Regions from separate parts of the Homo sapiens genome. Here region 2 is linked to region 1. The links come from fine-mapping of genetic effects on gene expression. A gene starts in region 1. The other region holds a variant in brackets. All regions are shown on one strand. Distances are between the middles of the regions. Region 1 holds the start of RAB24 (RAB24, member RAS oncogene family). Region 2 overlaps NSD1 (nuclear receptor binding SET domain protein 1).

The links.
Region 2: its variant is fine-mapped to the expression of RAB24 in skeletal muscle (FUSION, PIP 0.95).

Annotation. Positions count from the first base shown.
Region 1 is chr5:177,300,433-177,308,432 of GRCh38, forward strand. RAB24 (RAB24, member RAS oncogene family) reads right to left here and starts at 3,287. Exons shown (of 8, transcript NM_001031677.4): 1 at 2,740-3,287; 2 at 2,577-2,645; 3 at 2,320-2,398; 4 at 2,145-2,212; 5 at 1,965-2,064; 6 at 1,696-1,746; 7 at 1,493-1,555; 8 at 766-1,375. The coding sequence starts at 2,856. The coding sequence ends at 1,311. It overlaps PRELID1 (PRELI domain containing 1), which reads left to right and starts at 3,367. Exons shown (of 5, transcript NM_013237.4): 1 at 3,367-3,645; 2 at 4,193-4,418; 3 at 5,439-5,552; 4 at 5,666-5,744; 5 at 5,990-6,517. The coding sequence starts at 3,554. The coding sequence ends at 6,138. MXD3 (MAX dimerization protein 3) reads right to left here. Exons shown (of 6, transcript NM_031300.4): 5 at 7,349-7,532; 6 at 6,778-7,271. The coding sequence ends at 7,156. RefSeq lists enhancers at 1-47, 978-2,177, 1,351-1,410, 3,342-4,219, 3,858-3,957 and 5 more and silencers at 1-148, 3,178-3,247, 3,298-3,377, 3,488-3,627.
Region 2 is chr5:177,155,462-177,163,461 of GRCh38, forward strand. All of the region lies in intron 2 of NSD1 (nuclear receptor binding SET domain protein 1), which reads left to right. Among named protein-coding and RNA genes, the nearest start is that of NSD1, 26 kb to the left of the region's middle. RefSeq lists a silencer at 4,196-4,325. The variant T/A (reference allele first, on the strand shown) is at 4,436.

The DNA.
Region 1 (8,000 bases):
TCCCTCTGTTGGGAGTGGCTGGTTTCAGTTTCAGTCTCCCTCCACAGGAAGCCCCCATCACTCATGAAGGAAGGGCAGTTTGAGGAATTGGTTTTTAAAAAGGAAGTGGAACCAAAGCACTCTCTGAGTGTGAGTCTGACCATGTTGGCTAAGTTGTACATTTTTCCAAGGCAGGTGTTGGCCACTGCAGAGGACTCAGCCCAGGCCTAAATAAAGGCAGGAAAGCAGAGGCAAAGGATAAAACTAAGGGAAAGCCCCTGGCCTGGGGCCACACCCTCCATACCAGAAAGGGCTGCAATAAATTTCCTTCTGGTTGAGCAGCAAGTGTCAGCCCTGTTTACAGTTAACACCTGATTCCTCAGAAATATCTGGATCTTCTTTGGGGAAAACTTGGGAGTTTGCTTCCCTTTGTGACCTAGTCCTGAACTTCCTGCCCTTTCAGCAAAAAGTGCTTGGGAAGATTGGGAAAAACATTTAGTACTAGAGTTACTCTTCACTTTCTTCACAATCCTTGGGCTGCATAGTAGTCACCTTATTTTACAGATGAGAAACTCAAGATGAGGATTTAAGTCCCTTTTCTAAATTAGCAGCTGAATTGGAACCAAATCTGGATCCATTAGACCTTTCTGGCTTACAGAACTTAGGACTTTCCTACCATTAAACCACATTGTAGGATGTCACTGGGAAGCTCAGGACCTGAGTCACAGGTCTGACATAGGGGCCCAAACATGACAGATGCAGTAGAGCTAGTCAGACCAACCTGTCTCAGGTAGGAATGCTTGACCCTTTTATTTCGAAGCAACTCATGCACTCTTTTCAGCACTCAGAAGGAACTGTGAGCTTTTATACTACTACAGCCCCAGTATCTCAGCGGTAACCATGGGGAAAAAAGTCTTGTTTTCCAAAGGAAAATGAGAGTTGGGAGGAGCCTTAATATAAGCAGTGAGGCCAGCCGGGTGGCCCCAGGAAGAACTAGGTGTCTTGACACCTAATCCACACAGCAGGGAAAGGGGCTGGGTGTGATGCACAGTGCACTGATTTTATTTACAGATCAAAAGCCACTTAAATAATCTGCAGACACAAGTGCTGTCCAGGGCAGAAGCCTGGGGTCCAAATCAGCCTTATCCCTCCTCATGCCCACAGTCAGCCCAATGCTGTCTCCGTTCCATGGGCCAGCACAGGCAGGCGCCACTCTGCTGACATGAGGACCTGGGGTAGCTCAGACATTTGACTACCCAAGCCCAGAAAGGAGCTGGGTCCAGCCCTTACGGGGAATTCCTTTAATTCCCCCAGGCCAGGTGAGTGCTGACTCAGTGATGACAACAGCTGTAGAAGTAGGGGTTTGGCTTCTGGCCCAGATCCACGCCCTTGTCCTCTGTCAAAAAGAGAGGTGGCAGCTCAGCACCATTCTGTTGGGATCAGGTAACTCAGGAAAGGGGCTAGATGCTGTGGGCCTAGAGTAAGTCTCCATAAAGGCTGGGGAAGCACACACCTGTCATCACCTGGAAGGCAGCCACACTGACGTAATCCTCTGCCACTTTCTGGAAGAGCTCGTCTGGCAGGAAAAATGATGATCAGCGAGGGCCCAATGCCAGTAGCCCTGGGATCTCCCAGTGACCCAGCCCTCTGTGCCCTATTCAGCTTCCTCTGGTGCCCCTGCATGTTCCTGCTGTGAGGCTCCAGCACAGCACTCACCCACACTCTGGCCTGTCTTGCTGGATGTTTCAAAGAGCTGAGCTTTGATATCTGTAAAGAGAAGTGACTAAAGCCTCATACCTGAGAATTAGATAAACAGACAAAAGGGAGGGCTAGCAGTTCAGGGAGTCTCCTGGACCCCACAGTTCAAGGAGGCCAGGAAGACCTCCTAGAGCACCTTGCCCTGGCAGCCAAGGCAGTCCCTATTTTCTTTGATCCACCCAGACAGCCACACACCCCCACCCCCCAAAGGGCTGAGGAGCAGCTACTGTCTGCATAGTCCTGGACGTCGTGGAAGTCCACACGTCGACGCCTCCGGTCTTCTTCCAGCAGGTCACTCTTGGTGCCACATAAGTAGATTTGGCAGCCCTGAGGCAGAAGACAAGGGTCACCTCCACAGGCCAACAAAACCCCAGCCCCTAGTGTTCTAGTGAGGTCTGTTCACCTACCTCCTCTAGGCTGCGCAGTTCCTTCACCCAGAACTTTGCTCGCTCAAAGCTGCTGCTGTCTGTGAGGTCTTGGTGTGCGGCATGCAGGAGACAACCAAGTGGTCAAGGGCTGTTCTCTGGCTAGCCTGGCACCCATCTTTTCTTGTGAGACAGCCCAAACCCCCCCCCCCCTTACCATAGCAGACGATGGCAGCCTTGGCACCCCGATAGTAGATTCTACTCATGGCCTCATAGCGCTCAGAGCCTGCTGTGTCCTAAAGAGTAAGGCCTGAGTCAAACTTAAGGCCACGTTCTCCAGACCCCGCTATTTTCCAGATAAGGAAACGGGTCTATGAGAAATGGGTCTGTGAGGCCACAAATCAACCAGTAATAGGCAGGACCTACACCTCCTCAGGAATGAGTCTCCCAAGAATAGATGGCCGGGGGACTTACCCAAATACCTAATGTCACAGTCCGGTCTCCGACCGACATCACCTTGGCCACGAAGGCGGCCCCGATGGTCTGCAACGAGAGGGAAGAGATCGGGGCCATAGGTGCAGATTACCGGCCCCCCACTCCCCCGCCCACCGTGCCTGGCCCCTCCGGATGCACTCACGTTCTGATAAGGCCCCACCAGAAAGCGGTCGTGCACGTAGCGCTCCACCAGGCTAGTCTTGCCCACGTACTCCTTGCCCAGCATCACCACCTTGACGTCCACGCGCTGCCCGCTCATGCTCCCGGGGCCGCTTCAGCCACGTCAGGGTCCTGAGCGGGGACGGGAGGCAAACCCCGATCTCCGCTCGGCCCAGGCAGCGCCCAAGCCTCAGACCCCGACCCCAAACGGCGCCAACCTACGACTCCAGACAGCGCGTCGGGCTCGAGCTCTGGCCGTGGCCTTGCACTTCGGCAGCGCCCCGTGTGCCCCCGCTGTTCGGCCCCGGGCGCCGATTATCCTTCGAAGACCCCAAGCCTCGGGGCGGCCTGGGAGCGCGCGGGACAGCGTCCTCAACAGCGCAGCACGCCGCCGTGCAGCTCGCTACTCCGTCATTCGCTCGCCTGCCCGGCTTAAGCTCCGTTCTGGCTGGGAATCCCAACCGAACCTGGGGTCTCCCGCAACCCGGCTCCTACCCGCAGCGCCGCGACTCCCGCGGGAGGGGGCTAGAGGGCGAGGGGGCGGGGCCGCAAGGTCACGTGGCGCGGGCGCCGGAAGCGGTGGCTACTGTGTGGCTGCGCCGGAAGTGGCGCGCGGCCGGACAACTCATGGCGGCGGCGGCGGCGGCGGCAGCTGCTTGGGCGCGGTGCGGTGGTGACTGAGCTACGAGCCTGGCGGCGGGTGTGCGCCGAGCCCCGGCCCGGCCCGGCCCTCGCGTGCCTCCCAGGCTCCGCACCCCTGATGCTGCGCGGGTGCTGAGCCCGCTTCGGCCGGGACGATGGTGAAGTATTTCCTGGGCCAGAGCGTGCTCCGGAGTTCCTGGGACCAAGTGTTCGCCGCCTTCTGGCAGCGGTACCCGAATCCCTATAGGTACGTGGTATTTGGAAGAGCAAAACCGCGCCATCTCGCTATCTGGAGATCGAATTATGGGTAACCCCCAAGTACTGGGACCAGGAAGGACTCGATATCGAATCCTAGGTAGACCTTATCGGGGAAGCGGCCAGGCCAGGCCTGCAAGGTCCTGAAGGGAGGTTGGGCCTGGGTGGTGGTTTACTTGAGACCTTAGTGTAAGATTCTTTTCTCAGTGTGGTGAGACAAGAAGAGGCGGCAGTATGGGAGTTGGGAGGGATCTTGGAGTTGGAAATCCTATTTCTCTGCCCGTGGCGCTTTCCTGGGGTGCAATAAATCATGAGGTCCATTCCTGCTAGAAGGCAGGAATCCAGGTCAGTCAGATGGCGGGAGTGGGAATTTGCCCTGGGATGGGCCCTTAACTCTGGTTTGAACCATAGCACATACCACCCTGCAAGGTTACGGGAAGGCGTGGCCTCTCTAGGCCCGGAGCCTCCAAATGGGAATCCCCTCGGGCAGTCTCTTAGGGGCAAGCTTCTGAGGGTCACCTTCACCCTGACACCTGCAGCAAACATGTCTTGACGGAAGACATAGTACACCGGGAGGTGACCCCTGACCAGAAACTGCTGTCCCGGCGACTCCTGACCAAGACCAACAGGATGCCACGCTGGGCCGAGCGACTATTTCCTGCCAATGTTGCTCACTCGGTGTACGTCCTGGAGGACTCTATTGTGGACCCACAGAATCAGACCATGACTACCTTCACCTGGAACATCAACCACGCCCGGCTGATGGTGAGACACCTCCTGTTGTGATTCTGCACCTCCCCCTCTCCCCTCCCCCCGAGATAGAGAGCTCCTCAGATACATGTGGCTAGAGAGCCATAAGGCAGCTTTTGTGGCCGGAGGCAGGTCTGGGTTACTGAGGGTTGACAGCTGTAGAGTATGACCTCAGGTTTTCTTCTTTTCAGCTGGCCATCCTCTCTGGACCTGTCCTTTGACTCATTCATACAGTGGGGGAGGGGTACCTATCTTACGGAGTTGTCCTAAGTTCTAAATGCAAAGCGCTCCCATCTGGCATCTATGGCACAGATATATGTTGGACTCACAGGAGTGATGCTGAGTGGCGGAGGCAGTGCTTTTCTTTTTTTTTTTTCTGTTTTTTGTTTTTTTCTGGTGACAAGAGTCTCACCCAGGTTGGAGTGTAGTGACATGATCTCACCTCACTGCCACTGCCACCTCCTGGGTTTAAGCAATTCTCGTGCCTCAGCCTTCTGAAGAGGTGGATTTCTAAGCACACACCACCACGCCTGGCTAATTTTTGTATTTTTAGTACAGACAAGGTTTTACCATGTTGGCCAGGCTGGTCTCGAACTCCTAACCTCAAGTGATCCGCCCGCCTCGGCCTCCCAAAGTGCTAAGATTACAGGCGTGAGCCACCGCGCCGGGCAAATGTTTTTATTTGGACTGTCAGGAAGCTCCAGAGCTGCAGCTGGTGGAAGGCGGCTAAAACACTGCATGCGTCTAGATGCACAAAACAAAATCCAGGAGCAGGATGGGCTGGAAGGCCCTTTGTTGATCTCAAGAGAGAGACCTTTTGCCTTCTAGTTTAAGAGTCAGAAGAGAGGTTTTCGAGAGCAAAACGACCTTATTTATGGCTTCTTGTTCTGTCAGTGCCACTTGGAGGTGCAGTCAGGGGAAGGAATGGATTTTCATTGTATTGCTTCGCCTCATGAAAAGTGACAGGGAGTCAGATTTATGTGCAAGTTGGCAAAATGAAAGACTGTTCCACGATTGTGGTTGGCCTCTGCATAGGTGGTGGAGGAACGATGTGTTTACTGTGTGAACTCTGACAACAGTGGCTGGACTGAAATCCGCCGGGAAGCCTGGGTCTCCTCTAGCTTATTTGGTGTCTCCAGAGCTGTCCAGGTGAGCAGTGTTGTTGGGGCTGCTGGGGCTCTGGGACCCAGTGCTTTCGGTGTTGGGGCTGGGCTGGGGTCAGTGGGCAACTCAGTATCCTTCCCATTCTCATCTCATGCCAGGAATTTGGTCTTGCCCGATTCAAAAGCAACGTGACCAAGACTATGAAGGGTTTTGAATATATCTTGGCTAAGCTGCAAGGTGAGTTTCTGGGTATGTGGATATTCCTCATAGGGAGAGGCTCATTCAGCCTAGCGGGCGTGGAGTCTGGGTTAGTCATTGCCCTGCTCTGAGCTGGGACTCCTTGTCTGTACTGGGGGTGGGAGGAGGGTGAATACCACCTTTTTAGTGGAGCCTGGCCCAGAGGAGATTGGTGTCATGGGGGAGGGAAATTAGGTTGGTCTTTCAGGCATCTTCTAAAGGCAGCCACCTGCCGTTCGCGACAGGCGAGGCCCCTTCCAAAACACTTGTTGAGACAGCCAAGGAAGCCAAGGAGAAGGCAAAGGAGACGGCACTGGCAGCTACAGAGAAGGCCAAGGACCTCGCCAGCAAGGCGGCCACCAAGAAGCAGCAGCAGCAGCAACAGTTTGTGTAGCCAGTCTACCACCACCACAGCACCCCAGACAGCTAGGCTTAGCCTCTCTGCCCTCCCTTCATTGTACTTTATCATTAAAAATCAACTTCCAGCCCTGTCTGCTGTCTACGTGGTGGGTTGTGGGGATGCAGTTTGGCATCTGCAGTACACCAAGCACATGATTCATGTCTGAGCCAGGTCTGCTTATTCTCCCATTGGGCAGCTGAGGACCGAGGCACAGAGGTGCGGTGACTTGCCCGGGGCTCCAGGTAGCCTGCAGGTTAACTGGCGGTAAGTGCTAGACTGTAAGCCCGACAAGGGCAGGGCTTTTGGTTTTGTTCTCTGATGTGTCTCAGTATCTAGCACATAATAGACACTCAATAAATACTTGTTGAATTCAGTTGGCCCCAGCTCTGGAGTCGGAAGGCTCTGGTTTGAATCTTGGCTTCACTGTTTTTGGACCTCAGGCGAGTCACGTCACTCAGCCTCATTTCTACCATCCGTGAAGTGGAGACAGAACAGCCTCAAGTTGTGAGAATTAAGTGCACTGCCTGGCACGGCCAACAGTGTCAGTGATGGGAACTGATATTATTTCCTCTTCCAGTGGGTCTGTGGTTGGGAGTTCCCCCGTTTTCATTAGGCAAGACTATGGACGGGAAGTTATGAAAGAGGCTTTTAATGAAAATACTGTACAGTTTATGTGAGGCAAAGGCAGGGGGCCTTGTCCAGGAAGGGAAGAGGCCCAAGAGGCTTCCTGTCCCCTTGGGGGCAGCAGAGCCAAATGCTTGGGCTCGGGCCCAAGCTGCCTGCCCTGCAGGGGTCCAGGGAGGTCCTGATGAGTCCTGCCCCTTCCCTTCCAGAGGGCCTGCCTGGCAGCCAGCAGCAGGGTGTTTGGGGAGCACCTGTTCCCACACAAGGGTCCTTTTAGTCCATTCCAACAGGTGACTCCGAGCAGCCCTGAAGGCTTGGGGAGGGCTCCTGCCTGGCAAGTGGGCCTGGCACGAGTAGAGGGCAGAGGCCCGCCCTGGGTGAGGAACATCATAGCCAGGCGCCGCCGCCGTGCGAGTAGCTGTGCTCCTGGCCGGCGACGAAGCCCCGCAGCAGCTCGGCCTCACCCCCAAACACCAGGCTCTCCACATCCACCTCCAGCTCCTCTGCGCGGGGAGGGGTCCGGTCAGAAGACCTGGCTCGCCCCGAGGGCCACACAACCCCTCAGCCTCGGGGCACTCACCTTGGTCTGAGTCTGAGCGCTCAGAGGAGAGGCCTGAGGAGTCCAGACTGTCCGCCCGCAGCCGCTCCCGCTCGGCCGCCCCTGCCAGCCCCCGGAGCTGCTCCAGCTGCCGCTGCAGGCTCTGCTGCTTGCTGCGCAGCCTCTCCTTGAGCTGTCGGGCCCGCTGCTCCTGATCCTCCAGCTTCTGCGGATCCCAAAGGAGCAAGGGGCTGGGGTCAGCGGCGTGGGGGCTTGGGCTGCACCCCAGCACCACTCAGTACCGGGCCACGGCCACAGGGCCAATGCCCACTCCGGGCAGGTGGCGACTAAATCCAGGCCCCAGAGGGTTGCACCCACATCCTCCAGAAAGCCAGCCCCTTTCCGGCCATGCACACGTCCTGTCAGGGTGCTGCCTAGATTGGGGGTGGGGGGGCACCACAATCTCAAAGGCATTTGGGGCCTAGTCAAGGATAAAGGACTGGAGTGCTGTGGCGTCCAGGGGTGGGAACTGGGAGCAGGGTGCACTGCTGCGTGTACACTCTGGCTCAGGAGCCAGGCATGTGCTGTCATGGGAAACAGGCCCGGTGTTACCAGGTCTCCCCGTTTCTTTTGTTTTTTGTTTTTTTTTTTTGAAACAGAGTCTCGCTCTGTCGCCCAGGCTGGAGTGCAGTGG
Region 2 (8,000 bases), 140 kb before region 1:
CCATGTCGGCTAAGCTGGTCTCGAACTCCTGACCTCAGGTGATCTGCCTGCCTTGGCCTCCCAATGTGCTGGGATTATAGGCATAAGCCACCGCACTGGCTTTTTTTTTTTTTTTTTTTTTAAACCTGGATGGTTTTATTTTGCATGAATGTATAGATATTTCCTGTTCATACATTCTGAAAGTGAACAACTGTATATATGCAATTTATTTTTATTCTTATTTATTTATTTGTTTATTTTTTGAGACCAGAGTCTCACTCTGTCGCCCAGGCTAGAGTGCAATGACACAATCTCGGTTCACTGCAACCTCTGCCTCCTGGGTTAAGCAATTCTTCTGCCTCAGCTTCCCCAGTAGCTGGGATTACAGGTGTCCGCTAATTTTTGTATTTTTACAAAATACACCCAGGTAATTTTTTGTAATTTTGGTAGAGACAGGTTTCACCATGTCGGCCAGGCTGGTCTCGAACTCCTGACCTCAGGTGATATGCCCGACTCAGCCTCCCAAAGTGCTGGGATTACAGGTGTGAGCCACTGCGTCTGGCCTGCATGGGGATTCTTAATGAAGATTAATTATTGTAGTTGAGGGGGAAAAGGAATAATAAATATTTATTGGACCCTAAATACCTTCGAATATGGAATACCCTAGGTATTCTAGGGCATTTAGGGACCAATAAATATTTATTCCTCCGTACTCTTCCCTCGCTCTTTTCAGATTTTTTTTTTTTTTTTTTTTTTTTTGAGATGGAGTCTTGCTCTGTCTCCAGGCTGGAGTGCAGTGGCGCGATCTTGGCTCACTGCAACCTCTGCCTCCTGGGTTGAAGTGATTCTCTTGCCTCAGCCTCCTGAGTGGCTGGGACTACAGGTGCATACCACTATGCCCAGCTAATTTTTGTATTTTTTGTAGAGACAGGCTTTCACCATGTTGGCCAGGATGGTCTCGTTCTTTAGACCTCGTGATCTGTCTTCCTCAGCCTCCCAAAGTGTTGGAATTACAGGCGTAAGCCTCCGCCGGGCCTTTTTTAGATTTTTAAGAGAATTTTTGTTAAAGCATGAACTTAAAAAATCAGACTTGGCTTGGAGCGGTGGCTCATGGCCTCTAGTCCCAGGACTTTGGGTGGCTGAGGCAAGTGGATTGCTTGAGCCCAGGAGTTCAAGACCTGCCTTGGCAATAATATCAAGACCCCCTCTTCATGAAAAACAATCAAGCTAATACTTGATACTATTTTACATAAGAATTTTTTATAGTATGTCATGTTTTAATGTATATTGGTTATATAGTTGCAAATTTAAAGGCATGGTGGTGGCTCATACCTGTAATCCCAGCACTTTGGGAGGCTGGGGCGGGCAGATCTTCTGAGGTCAGGAGTTCAAGACCAGCCTGGCCAACATGGTGGAACCCCGTCTTAGGCTGAGGCAGGAGAATAGCTTGTGCCCAGGAGGCAGAGGTTGCTTTGAGCTGAGATCGCACCACGGCATTCCAGCCTGGAGGACAGAGCGAGACTCTGTCTCTAAATAAATAAATAAATAAATAAATGTATACTAACTGCATTAGCAAGACTCCGTCTCTAAATAAATAAGTGAATAAATAAATGTATACTAATTGCATTTTAAAAATCAAAGTATAGGCCGGGTACGGTGGCTCACAACTGTAATCCTAGCACTTTTGGAGGCTGAGGTGGATGGATCACCTGAGGTCAGGAGTTTGAGACCAGCCTGACCAACATGGTGAAACTTTGTCTCTACTAAAAATACAAAATTAGCTGGTGTGGTGGCGCATGGCTGTAATCCCAGCTACTCGGGAGGCTGAGGTAGGAGAATTGCTTGAACCTGAGAGGTGGAGGTTGTGGTGAGCGGAGATCGTGCTGTTGCACTCCAGCCTGGGCAACAAGAGCGAAACTTCGTCTCCAAGAAAAAAAAAATATATAATTCACATAAGATAAAATTCACCCTCTTTGGCCAGGCGCAGTGGCTCATGCCTGTAATCCCAGCACTTTGGGAGGTAGAGGTGGGCAGATCACTTGAGGTCAGGGAGTTTGAGACCAGCCTGGCCAACATGGTGAAACCCCATCTCTACTAAAAATACAAAAATTAGCCCGGTGTGGTGGCATACACCTGTAATCCACCTACTCAGGACGCTGAGTCTGCACTCAGTCCCTGGGCTACAGGGTGAAACTGTATCTCAAAAATAAAGAATAAAATGCAGCTACTTAAAGGGTGTAGAGTTGAACAACTGTTACCACTGTCTAATTCCAGAACCTTTCATCACCCCAAAAGAAAACCCATTCCCAGCAGTCATTTCCCATTAAGTCTCCTCTAGCCCCTCACAACCACTAATCTAATTCATGTTTCTATGTATTTGCCTATTCTAGGCGTTTCATACAAATACAGTCATATAATTTGTGGCCTTTCGTGTCTGACTTGTTTAACTTAGCATAATGTTTTAAGGCCCATTTATGTTGTTGTATGTATGCATACTTCATTCCATTTTACTGCTGAATATTGCTTTGTACTGATGCCACTTTTTGTTTGTCTTTTCATCACTTGACGGACATTTTGTTTCTTCCACTTTGTGGCTGTTACAGGCAGTGCTACTGTGAAAATTTGTATTAAAGTTTTAGCGTGAATATATGTTTTCAGTTCTCTTGGGAAAATACCTAGAAGTGGTATTGTCGGATCATAGGGTCATTCTATGTTTAGCATTTTGAGGAACAGCCAGACTGTTTTACATAGTGGTTGCACCGTTTTACAGTCCTACTTTAGCCTATATGGGTTCTAATTTCTTTCTTTCTTTCTTTCTTTCTTTCTTTCTTTCTTTCTTTCTTTCTTTCTTTCTTTCTTTCTTTTCTTTCTTTTCTTTCTTTTCTTTCTTTTCTTTCTTTCTTTCTTTCTTTTTTTAGAACAGAGTCTCCCTCTGTAGCCCAGGCTGGAGTGCAGTGGCATGGTCTTGGCTCACTGCAGCCTCCGCCTCTCGGGTTCAAGCAATTCTCTGCCTCAGCCTCCCAAGTAGCTTGGACTACAGGCGCCCGCCACCACGCCTGGCTAATGTTTGTATTTTTGGTAGTGACAGGGTTTCACCACATTGGCCAGGTTGGTCTTGAACTCCTGACCTCAGGTGATTCACCCACCTCGGCCTCCCAAAGTGCCGAGATTACAGGCATGAGCCACTGCATCCGGGCGTGGGTTCTAAATTCTTAATATTCTCATCAACATTTATTGCTGTCTTTTTAATTTTAGCCTGTAATCCCAGCTACTAGGGCGACTGAGGTGGTAGCATCGCTTGAGCCCAGGAAGCTGAGGCTGCAGTGAGCCAAGATTGCACCACTGCACTCCAGGCTAGGTGATGAAGTGAGACTTCATCTCAAAAAAAAAAAAAAGGAAGTAATGGCAAAAACTGGAATTATTTTGCACCAACTTAAATATTTAGATCTTTAATACCTTTGGAAAGTTTTTTATATATAGTTTGTGTGTGTGTGTGTGTATATATACACACATATATATATACACACACATATATACACACATATATATGAATGATTTTATATATATATATATATATATATATATGAATGATATATATATATATATATGAATGAATGAATGAGATGGAGTCTCACTCTGTCACCCAGGCAGGAGTGCAGTGGTGCCATTTTGGCTTATGGCAGCCTCCGCCTCCGGGGTTCAAGTGATTCTTGTACCTCAGCCTCCCGAGTTGCTGGGATTACAGGCACTCGCCACCATGCCCGGATTTTTTGTCTTAATTCATGAAGGATGAATTAAGTCTGCAGTTGTTCTTTTTCCCTTTTTCTTTCCAGTTTTTTTTTTTGTTTGTTTGTTTGTTTTTGAGACACAGTCTCACTCGGTTGTCCAGGCTGGAGTGCGGTGGCAGTATCTTGGCTCCCTGTAACCCATCTCCCTGGTTCAAGCGATTCCGGTGCCTCAGCTTCCCAAGTAGCTAGGATTACAGGTGTGTGACACCACACCTGGTTAATTTTTGTATTTTTAGTAGAGACGAGGTTTCACCGCATTGGTTAGGTTGGTCTCAAAACTCCTGACCTCAGGTGAACCGCCCACCTAAGCCTTCCAAAGTGCTGAGATTACATGCATGAGCCACCAAGTCTGGCCTAAGTCTGAATTTTTTTTTTTTTTTTTTTGAGACGGAGTTTCGCTCTTGTTGCCCAGGCTGGAGTGCAATGGTGCGATCTTGGCTAACCGCAACCTCCGCCTCCCACGTTCAAGCAATTCTGCCTCAGCCTCCCGAGTAGCTGGGATTGCAGGCATATACCACCACGCCTGGCTAATTTTGTATTTTTGTTAGAGATGGGGTTTCTCCGTGTTGAGACTGGTCTCGAACTCCTGACCTCAGGTGATCCGCCTGCCTCGGCCTCCCAAAGTGCTGGGATTACAGGTGTGAACCACTGCACCCGGCCGAATATAT[T/A]TTTTTTTTTTTAAATGGAGTCTCGCTCTGTGGCCCAGGCTGGAATGCAGCGGTGTGATCTTAGCTCACTGCAACCTCTGCCTCCCTGGCTCAAGCGATTCTCCTGCTTCAGCCTCCTGAGTACCTGGGACCACAGGTGTGCACCACCATGCCTGAATAATTTTTTTGTGTTTTTGTAGAGATGGAGTTTCACCATGTTGGCCAGGCTGATCTTGAACTACTGACCTCAGGTGATGTGCCTGCCTCCGCCTTCCCAAGTGCTGGGATTACAGGCATGAGCTACTGTACCCGGCTAAGTGTACAGTGTTCTTGTGATGTCTTTGTCTGGTGTTGGTATCAGGGTAATACTGTCTTCAAGATTACCCTTGAATGAGCTTTACTTCATTTTTTAATGTGTTTTTTTTTCTTTTCTTTTGTTTTTTGTTTTTGAGACAGAGTTTCACTCTGTCGCACAGGCTGGAATCCACACTCTAGGCTCGCTGCAGCCTCCACCTCCCAGGTTCAAGAGATTCTCCTGTGTCAGCCTCTTGAGTAGCTGGGGTTACAGGCACGTGCCACGACGCCCGGCTGATTTTTTTGTATTTTTAGTAGTGACGGGCTTTCACCATGTTGGCCAGGCTGGTCTCGAACTCCTGACATCAAGTGACCTGCCTTCCTCAGCCTCCCAAAGTGTTGGGATTACAGGAGTGAGCCACTGTGCCCCGCCTGCAATTACTTCTTAAGTTCTCAATTAAAAGAGAGTTTATCAAGGACTTTTTTTGGTAATTTTGCATTTTGAAAATTGCTAACATTAACTGGGACAGCCCTTTTATTTATTTATTTGTCACTCAGTTGTTTTTTTGAGTTGCCTACTATGTCCCAGGCACTGGTAAGATAGGAGTATCATTGTACCTGAGGCAGGGCAACATGTGCTTGCTTGAGAGGAGCATGATCTAGGATTATAAGGACTGCAACCTCCCCTTCCCAGGTTGAAGCAGTTCTCATGCCTCAGCCTCCCAAGTAGCTGGGACTACAGCCATGAGCCACCACGCCCAGCTAATTTTTGTGTTTTTAGTAGAGATGAGGTTTCCCCATGTTGGCCAGGCTAGTCTCAACTTCTGGACCTCAGGTGATCTGCCCACTTCAGCCTCCCAAAGTGCTGAAATTACAGGAGTAATTTTATTCTCCCAAAGCTGCTGCTTTGGGAGAATAAAAAGTTGAGTATGGGCCAGGCATGGGGGCTGATGCCTGTGATCGCAGCACTTTAGGAGACTGAGGTGGGAGTCTAGCTTGAGCCCAGTAGTTTGAGACAAGCCTGGGGAACATAGGGAGATCCGGCCTCTACAAAAAAAATAAATTAGCTGGGTGGAGTGGCATGTGCCTGTGGTCCCAGCTACTTGGGTGGTTGAGGTGGGAAGATATCTGAGCTCAGGAGTTCCAGGCTGCAGTGAGCTCTGATTATGCACTCCAGCCTGGGTGACAGAGTGAGATGCTGTCTCAAAAAAAAAAATTCAGTGTGGCGTGATTAGGCTGGGAGGGTGGGGCAGGAAGGGATGACATTGGAGGGGTAGGCAAGGTGTAGATAGACCTTTCCCTATATTCTCCTATTTTTAAAAAATTTTTTTCTAAATAGAGATAGGGTCTTACTATTTTGCCCAGGCTGGGTCTCAAACTCCTGGGCTCAAGTAATCCTTCCATCTAGGCCTCTATTTTTTGTGCAAACGATTGAAATTATATTTTTTTTACCTGAATTTTTCCTGTGAACATTGGGTTATTTATAAACCTGTTTTCTGTTTCTTTCTTTCTTTTTTTTTTTTTTTGTTTTTGTTTTTTGAGATAGAGTCCAGCCTGGAGTGCTGTGGCATGATCTTGGCACACTTGCAACCTCTGCCTCCTGGGTTCAGGTGATTCTCCTCCTCTAGCCTCCTCCACGCCTGGCTAATATTTGTATTTTTAGTAGAGATGGGGTTTCACCATGTTGGCCGGGCTGTTCTTGAACTCCTGGTTTCAACAGATCCACCTGCCTCAGCCTGCCAAAGTGCTGAGATTACAGGTGTGAGCCACTGTTCTAGGCACTTGTTTCTGTTTCTTAATTTTGGCTGCTACTCAGTGGGAAAAAGCACAGATTGAATCTAATTGAGGCCGGGCGCTGTGGCTCACTCCTGTAATTTCAGCACTTTGGGAGGCTGAGGTGGGCAGATCACCTGAGATCCAGAGTTCGAGACTAGCCTGGCCAACATGGGGAAACCTCATCTCTACTAAAAACACAAAAATTAGTTGGGCGTGGTGGCTCATGGCTGTAGTCCCAGCTACTCGGGAGGCTGAGGCATGAGAATTGCTTCAACCCGGGAGGTGGAGGTTGCAGTGAGCTGAGATCAGGACACTGCCCTCCAGGTTGGGCAAGAGAGTGAGACTCGGTCTTAAAAAAAAAAAAAAATCTAGTTGAAAAATGTCATCGGGTCTTTCCAAATTTTTACTAGGAATTTGTTAAAATTAACCAGGCTGGAAGTCATTATAGTTTGTTTGTTTGTTTGTTTGAGATGGGGGTCTCACTCTGTCACGCAGGCTGGAGTTCAGTGGTAGGATCTCGGCTCACTGCAACCTCTGCATCCCAGATTCAAGCGATCCTCTCACCTCTGCCTCATGAGTAGTTGGAACCACAGGCATGTGTCACCATGCTTTTGTAGAGACAGGGTTTCTTTCGCCCTATTGGCTAGGCTGGTCTCAAACTTGTGAGCTCAAGCGATCCGCCCACCTTGGCCTCCCAAAGTGCTGGGATTACAGGCATGAGTTACCTTGCCTTGCCCATTATAGCTTTTTTGAGGCTGGGTCTTACTCTCTGTCATGCAGGCTGGACTGCAGTGGTGTGATCTAAGCTCACTGCCTCCTGGGCTCAAGCAGTCCTCCCACCTCAGCCTCCTGAGTAGCTGGCACAGGCGCTACCTCACCCATCTAATTTTTTATTTTTTTTAGAGATGGGGTTTTGCCATGTTTGCCCAGGCTGGTCTAGAATTCATGAGCTCAAGTGATCTACCTGCCTCGGCCTCCCAATGTGCTGGGATTACAGACATGAGCCACTATGTTCAGCCATACCTGGCTAATTTTTAAAAAATGTTTTCAAGAGACAGGGTCTCCCTGTGTTGCCCAGGTTGGTCTCAAGTTCCTGGGATTACTGCTGGCCTTCAAAAGTAAATGTGAAATAATTAGTTAATTTCTCCCTCAGTTGACAAATAATGCCAAAAGTGATAAAGATTAATGAAATGTCTCTTTTTTTTTTTTTTTTTTGAGACGGAGTCTCGTTCTGTTGCCAAGTCTGGAATGCAGTGGCACGATCTCGGCTCACTGCAACGTCCACCTACTGGGTTCAAGTGATTCTCCTGCCTCAGCCTCCCGAGTAGCTGGGACTACAGGCACGCATCACCATGCCCGGCTAATTTTTGTATTTTTAGTAGAGACGGGGTTTCACTATGTTGGCCAGGCTGGTCTTGAACTCCTGACCTCATGATCCACCCACCTTGGCCTCCCAAAGTGCTGGGATTACAGGCATGAGCCACCGCGCCCAGCCATGAAATTTCTTACGTAGAAA